Linked DNA regions of Homo sapiens. The protein of the gene in region 1 interacts with the protein of each later gene in a pairwise test. Each region holds a gene or a part of one and is shown in the gene's direction. Other genes may lie near its edges. The genes, in order: CRAT and PEX3.

Region 1 (3,823 bases):
TGTGACCTGCTGCTGGCTGCACATGCACAGTTCTCCAGTGCCCACTGCTCTGGCACGGCCGTTCGTTTGCTGCCCAGAGTTTCGTGAGCACATACTCTGTGTCTGGCACTTGGCAGGGTGCTGGGTGATCAAGAAGGACACAGTCACCAGCTCCTTGGAGCTAACATTCAAGTAGGGAGGAGAGAAAGGTAATGAACAGGATACAGGTTGTGGACAAGGTTTCATGTTCCAGGACAGAGGCAGGAGTGGGGTGCACGGCAGGTACAACCAGATAGAAGATGCCCTTGTGCTTGGTGGGACAGCCTCAGGCAGGGGATATGTGTCACTCAGTGACCGATCGCCCAGGTTCTGTATCTGATCTATGACACAGGTGTACCCAGTTTGGCAAATATGTCTACACCAATGTTTGGTGTGCTTTTCTATTTGCATCTCATACTTCAATACACAGATTTAAAAAGTGGCAGCTGGATGCAGTGACTCACACCTATAATCCCAGCACTTTGGGAGTCCAAGGCGGGCAGATCACAAGGTCAGGAGTTCGGGACCAGCCTGGCCAACATGATGAAACCCTGTCTCTACTAAAAATACAAAAATTAGCCAGGCGTAGTGGCACGCACCTGTAATCCCAGATACTGGGGAGGCTGAGGCAGGAGAATTGCTTGAACCTGGCAGGTGGAGGTTGCAGTGAGCCAAGATTGTGCCACTGCACTCCAGCCTGGGCGACAGAGCAAGACTCTGTCTTGGGAAAAAAAAAAGGTGACCCAGCTGCTGGGAGGGAGGCAGAGTGGAAGCCAGAGGCGAGGGGGAGGGGTGACATCACCCCCAAGGAGCTGTGGCAGCCTGGGTCTGACACCGGATGGGAGAGAGGGAGAGTCGTTAGGTCCAGGACTGTTTTGGAGGCAGTGCCAGTGTCACTTGCCAATGAGGTGGGGGCACGGGTGGAATTTGCCAAGTCGGGGTTGCCTGAGAGAGAAGCTACCTGTGGGAGAGCCAGAGCGGGTCCGGCCCTGGGAAATGCTGTGTTATAGGGGGTGCCATGGGGAGGGGAGGTAGAGCTCTAGCCCTGGGGCTTGGCGGAGGCTGTGGGGCTGCACACAGGAGGTGGGAGTTGTCAACATTTGCTGAGACGCGTCAGGTCAGGACTTTGGACTCCAGAACCAAGATGCTTCCCCCGAAAGGTCCTTAGAGCGTCTGGGGGCTGGTGGTTTTCCGACTTCATTTAGCCTGGGACTCCTTCAAACAGAAGCTCCTGGTTAAAGGGGTGGGGGCACCCCTCCTTCCACTCACGGGGCCACCGAAGGGTCTCCGCCACCACCTGGCAGATTCTCGCTGGGGGAGTACCCATACCTGCGGGGTCTCCTCTGGTCTCCCAAGCTTTGGCCAGAGGCTCTGGGATCCCTAGTGGAGTACAGGCCCCTGGCTGTTTCCCCAAGGGAAGGAAGCTCCTGTCTGCCCTTCACTGATCTACAGATGAGGAAAACTAAGGCCCAGAGAGGTGGCCCAAAAGCCCAGAGCCACACAGCAGCTCTCAAGGAAGCCCTCGGCCACACAGGAAGGTCTGACTGACTCAGGGACCCAGTTCTTAGGGGCTACCAGTCACCTGTTGTACAACTTGGGGACAAGTTGCCTCCCCCTCACCCCTTGCCAAGTTGCCTCCCCCTCACCCCTTGCCAAAGGCTAGTGGCCCAGTGCTGCAGGGGAGTGCGTGTGATGAAGAGGCGCATCCTGCTGCTGTTCACCACGGGTTGAGGGGGCGCAGGTGGGCCCAGGTCTCTGGGGGTGGAAGGCCAGAGAAAGCTGTACTGGCTGTGTGCAGGAAGGGTGGGTGTTGCAGTCAGCATAGAGGACACAGGGTGACAGTCACCTGGGAGTGTGCGCAGCGCCAGACATGGAGCCTTTAATACCACATCCCTGGCTGGTGCCCAGAGACCCCCCACCCCCCAGAGAGAGGACAGACCGTCAGGGCAGAGAGTAAGGATGTGTCACCCACATCTTGTCACTAGCATAAGGATTCATCCTTGCAGGGAGCATCCCCTCAAGATTGCCCTGACCTTGAGATCAAAGTGGGTATCTACTCCCCGAGGCCACAGGTTCCTCAGGCTGCTCTGATACCCCAGTCTCCTGCCTCCTTGGACAGTTCTCTGCTGGGGATGGTCAAAAACTCACTTATTGGGCCAGACGCGGTGGCTCACGCCTGGAATCCCAGCACTTTGGGAAGCTGAGGCAGGTGGATCATTTGAGGTCAGGAGTTCAAGACCAGCCTGGCCAACATGGTGAAAACCTGTCTGCAGCAAAAAATACAAAAATGAGCCAGGCATGGTGGTGCGCACCTATAGTCCCAGCTACTCAAGAGGCTGAGGCAAGAGAATCGCTTGAATGCAGGAGGTGGAGGTTGCAGTGAGCTGAGATAGCACCGTGGCACTTTAGCCTGGGTGACAGTGAGACCCTGTCTCAAAAAAAAAGTCACTCATTGGACTTTGTTTTTGTAGACCCTTCCCTTTTTTCCTTTCTATCTATTCAGGCATACATTTTAATTTAACATATGACAGTCATTGACAGAGAATGTGTAAGATGAGAATTTGTTCACCTTGCCGGGCGCGGTGGCTCACGCCTGTAATCCCAGCACTTTGGGAGGCCGAGGCGGGAGGATCACGAGGTCAGGAGATCGAGACCATCCTGGCTAACACGGTGAAACCCCGTCTCTACTAAAACTACAAAAAAAAAAATTAGCCGGGCACAGTGGCGGGCGCCTGTAGTCCCAGCTACTCAGGAGGCTGAGGCAGGAGAATGGCGTGAACCCAGGAGGTGGAGCTTGCAGTGAGCCGAGATCATGCCACTGCACTCCAGCGTGGGGGACAGAGCGAGACTCCGTCTCAAAAAAAAAAAAAAAGACCGGGCACAGTGGCTCATGCCTGTAATCCCAGCACTTTGGGAGGCCAAGGCGGGCGGATCATGAGGTCAGGAAATCGAGACCATCCTGGCTAACACGGTGAAACCCCGTCTCTACTAAAAATACAAAAAAATAGCCAGGTGTGGTGGCTGGCGCCTGTAGTCCCACTTACTCAGGAGGCTGAGGCAGGAGAATGGCGTGAACCCAGGAGGCGGAGCTTGCAGTGAGCCGAGATTGCGCCACTGCACTCCAGCCTGCATGACACAGCGAGACCCTGTCTCAAAAAAAAAAAAAAGAATTCGTTCACCTTGCTGCCCCTCCCCACACCCCGGGTTTCCTCCTGATCTTTCTTTCACATCCTTTCTTAGCAGCAGCATCGGATTGATCTGGCTAATACTGATCACTCGGGCTAAAGGGAAGAGGCTGGTGGGTTTAAGTTGTGGGGCAGGGAGGGTGGGTTCTGGATCTAGGCATTTACTTTGAGAATCTCCATAGCCAGGTAGAGGGCATGGGGGCCAGCCAGGTCCCCTAGCCCTGGGGAACAGGGGGCACCAGGGCCCATGCACCCCTCCTGACAGGCTCTGGCACTTTTCCCAGCTGTCTGAGTGGTGGCTCAAGACCGCCTACCTCCAGTACCGCCAGCCTGTGGTCATCTACTCGAGCCCAGGCGTGATGCTACCCAAGCAGGACTTCGTGGACCTGCAGGGTCAGCTCCGGTGAGTGGCTGGGGTTTGGGGGCCAGGAGGCAGCCGGGCCCCTCGAGTTCACTTCGCCCAGCCGCTTGGAGGGGCCCCGACCCTGTTTATCTTTCTGCCCCACAAGCAGCCTTATGAAGTAGGGAGCATCCTCCCTATTTTACAAATGGGGAAATTGAGGCTCGGAGCAGGGAAGGGAGCTGCCCAAGACCCCATTCAGGAAGCAGGGTCTCTCCAG
Region 2 (3,823 bases), on another chromosome or scaffold:
ATGTTTGTCTAACATAAAGTTACATTCTCTGCTGAGAGGTTTTTTCAAAAAATCACAGAACTTGGAACTACATGTAGAGTATGGTAGAGTGTCCCATGAGAGTAATAACGGACCATAGCAAATGTGTAAGTTTGGAGTACCTTTCTCCGTGTTGTAGTCCAACACTGTGGGACTACATTTTAGTCCAGGTGTATTATAGTGGTCAGTTGAATTTATATAGCATGAATGTTTGCATTAAGCTGTGCTAGTAAGAAGATTGATCCTTGGGGCAGATCAAGGATCCTGTTCTACACATTTTGAGGAAAACTAAAAAAATTTGTGGAGAAGTAAAGCATTTTAGTGATTAATAAAATGTAACAGTTAATAGTGCATCAATAATATGCTCACTAAAAGCCACATAAACAGTGGGTCATTTAAATGTTTTATCAGACTACCTATAACTCCATCTTATTTCTTCATTTCCATTTGGAATGCATGGAGTAATTCAGTAATTCATTGAGTAATTCAGTAATTCATTGAGTAAGACAAATATTATAAACAAAATAACTTTGAATTTCTGAGTCATGTGCAAACTTGGAAACTGTGTTATAAGTTAAAAAATTGTTTGCAATGCCAGTTGCAAACTGCTTCAATAATGTACAATGAGAAGAGACCCTATGGCCTAAGCATAAAGCTGACATCTTCTTAGTGTAACTTGTCTCAGACAATTTAGTGTATCCTCTCTGTAGACTTTTTACTCTTGGGAACGTGGAGAGCACTGAGACTAAGAGTTCGTTTCCTCCTTTCACTGTGGTGTCATCAGCCTGTCCTTCACATGCACATTTTCCCACACTGGACTCTTCAGTCTTCTGTCCTCTTTCTCACCCCTAAGAGCTTGGCACTCATATTGCAGAAGAAATAGTGAATAAGACTGATCTCATTTTACTGAATGTTAAGCTTCACATCTATATCAATGTGAGAAAAAGGTCATAACTTGGGGCATTTAAACCTTACCTTTACCTTTGTCCTCTTCTGTAGAAGTCCCTGGCTTGGCCAGTAGGCTGTTCATTTTGACAGATGAGTGGAAATTACAACCAAGCATAAAGCATCATCAGCCTTAATGCTTAAATAATTTTATGCACTACACTTTAATTAAAATCGATATAATTGATAATAAAAACAAATGTTTCAATATGGTAAAAACGCCATTGATACTAATGTTTAGTAAAGTTTTTTACTGTAACTGGATGTATATTAAATGTATATACTAGACCATTGATTGACAAGGCTATTACAATTATAGTTTAATTTTTTAAACTATAATTTCTATGAGTTAAAATACCAAGTGGTCTTCTTAATAAATTGTCATATGCTTTACTATTTCCACTTATCTTTTTATAAAGCCTTTGCCTTGATTAGAATGCTAATTTACATAAAATTAGTCCTTTCGAATTACTGCTACTACTTCAACTACAATGGTGTGTAGGAGAGCCTATGGTGGGAATGCTGTAGAACAGGGGTTTGGCAAACTGTACAGGGCCAGATAGTACATACTTTAGGCTTAATGCAACATACATTCTCTACAGAAACTATTCAACTCTGCTCTGGCAGTGTGAAAGCAGTCAGAAACGTACATGAACAAAAGAGTATGGCTGTTTCAACAAAACTTTATATACAAAAACAGGCGGCAGTGGATTTGGCCTGCAGGCCATACTTTGCTGACCCCTTTGGTAGAAGATATTAGGATGGTAGTTGGTAAAGGTAGGAAATGGGAGAATCAGAAAACAATCGAGAAAGGTGGTTTTTCAAATTATTTTCAAATAGCTTTCAAATAACATAAGCAGGAGATAAATTATTTCAGATTGCTTTCAGATAACATAAGGAAAGAGCTTTTATAGTGTGAACCAACCCTATGATACATAATTTTTATCTCAGACTACTGAAACATCCTAGAAGCTGCATCAGGATACAGTATTTGAACAGATTAAAGTCTTTATTATAAAGCTGATATAAGTTAGCTATGACCTATGAGCCAAATCCAGCCAAGCACCAGCTTTTGTAAGTTTTATTGGGTGACAGCATGCCCATTGGTTTATGTGTTGTTTATGGCTGCTTTTGCACTACAATGGTAGTATTTCTCAGATTTGTCCATACACCTCACATACATATGTACACACATATACCACAGTCCTCCAGTGTTTAAATCATTTTTAGTGTATAAATTAAAAACTCAATAAGATCCTTAAGATTAGAGCTTTTTCGTAACTCAAAACCAAAGCACTTTTATTGTCAAGTAGAATCTAAATTACAAAAAAAGATTGTTCTATAATATGGCTGACGTCTACTATTAATAATTTGTTGTGCCAAAGTGAATGTGGACCTGTCTGCTACTGTTCATGCTGTTGAGCATTCAGCCTGCATTTTCTGAAGCTGACTTGCTAGTATTTTTTTTTTTATCTACTGTAACTATTCTGAAAGCTTCATTTGTATCATGTGTTTTACATGATTTGGTCTTCATTTGAAAGATTTTCTGCCTCTGTTCTTCTCTCATTAGCACAAGACAGTTAAAGTAATGTTACTTAAAGCCAATAAGAACATAAATATAAACAAATGCCCTAAAATCAGGAACAATAGTAGGTTATATATTTTATCTTCTCAATAATCAAGAGCGTGTTTGAGTTTTCTTTACATTTTCATAGAAATCAAAACACAAAATTTCCCCTCAAATTCTTGGGCCCCTGAAAGTATGTCTGTAAATTCTGGTTTGAGAAACATTGATCTAAACCTATGTTTCATTGAACACCTAGACTGAATACTTGAAACTAAATAACATCAAATTCTCTGATGAGATAATTTAACCATGAATTGATTGAGATTAGGACATGTCTAAACCTCACTTGGATTTTCCGATACTTAAGAAACAGAGATCACTAGGGACAGGTTTACTTCCCATTTCTTTGACACTCTCAGAGGCTGTCAACCTTTTCTATCATGGACCCTTTCACAGACTGGTGAAGCCTATGGACCCCTTCTCAGAACAATATTTATAAGTGCATACAATAAAATACATAATATTATAAAGGAAACCAATCATATATAGTTTTCAAAATTTCTTTTAAAATTAAGTGTATGATATAGCGGTATTGCTTCTTTATTCATGCATTAAATACCAAGATATAATGAGAGTTCTGATAACTTCCACAACTGTCATATGACATGAAAATGCCTATGATTTCTATTGAAGACAAAGTCATACAACCTGCTAATATTATCACAGTTTGTTGCCTACATTCATAATTGAAAGAGATACCAGATTTTGGTTAGAAGTTAAAGAAAATGAAGGTGTAATTTTTTTCTTATCTTCACATTCGCAAATCCCTTGGGGTGTTAATAACCCTTACACTATAGTGTATATGTGTGGTTCATGTATGTGTGTATATGTAAAATATGCACTTACTACACATATTCATACCGTATGTTAGATCTTCTAGAAAGTAATACACCCTTAACCGTGTTATGTCAGCTTCCAGCAAAAGTACCTTTACTCCTACAATTATTTATTCAACAGATACCTATCTAGCACTTGACATACACCAAAATTCATTTGAAGACTATTTGGGGTTTTTGTCCCTCAAAGTCACACTTGAACGCTTATGATACCATCATCCCTCATATAAGAACCTAAATAATAACTATCTCCTAGAATTTATTACAAGAAAAACTACTCATTTTCTTAAATGGTTTGCCTCTTGGCCTTTACCACAAAACTTAGAGCTGAATTCATCGCTTGATTGCAGAAATTAATTCAAATTAGCTATATGTTTTGCAAACTATAATGTTATAT

The links.
Region 2: the proteins of CRAT (region 1) and PEX3 come close enough for resonance energy transfer, tested with the Homo sapiens proteins (one large-scale study listed by BioGRID).

What each region holds. Positions count from the first base shown.
Region 1 is NC_000009.12:129,103,971-129,107,793, reverse strand, and holds part of CRAT (carnitine O-acetyltransferase), read left to right. Parts: intron 1-3,487; coding exon 3,488-3,606; intron 3,607-3,823. UniProt on the Homo sapiens protein: Catalyzes the reversible transfer of acyl groups from carnitine to coenzyme A (CoA) and regulates the acyl-CoA/CoA ratio. Also plays a crucial role in the transport of fatty acids for beta-oxidation.
Region 2 is NC_000006.12:143,485,305-143,489,127, forward strand, and holds part of PEX3 (peroxisomal biogenesis factor 3), read left to right. Parts: intron 1-3,823. UniProt on the Homo sapiens protein: Involved in peroxisome biosynthesis and integrity. Assembles membrane vesicles before the matrix proteins are translocated. As a docking factor for PEX19, is necessary for the import of peroxisomal membrane proteins in the peroxisomes.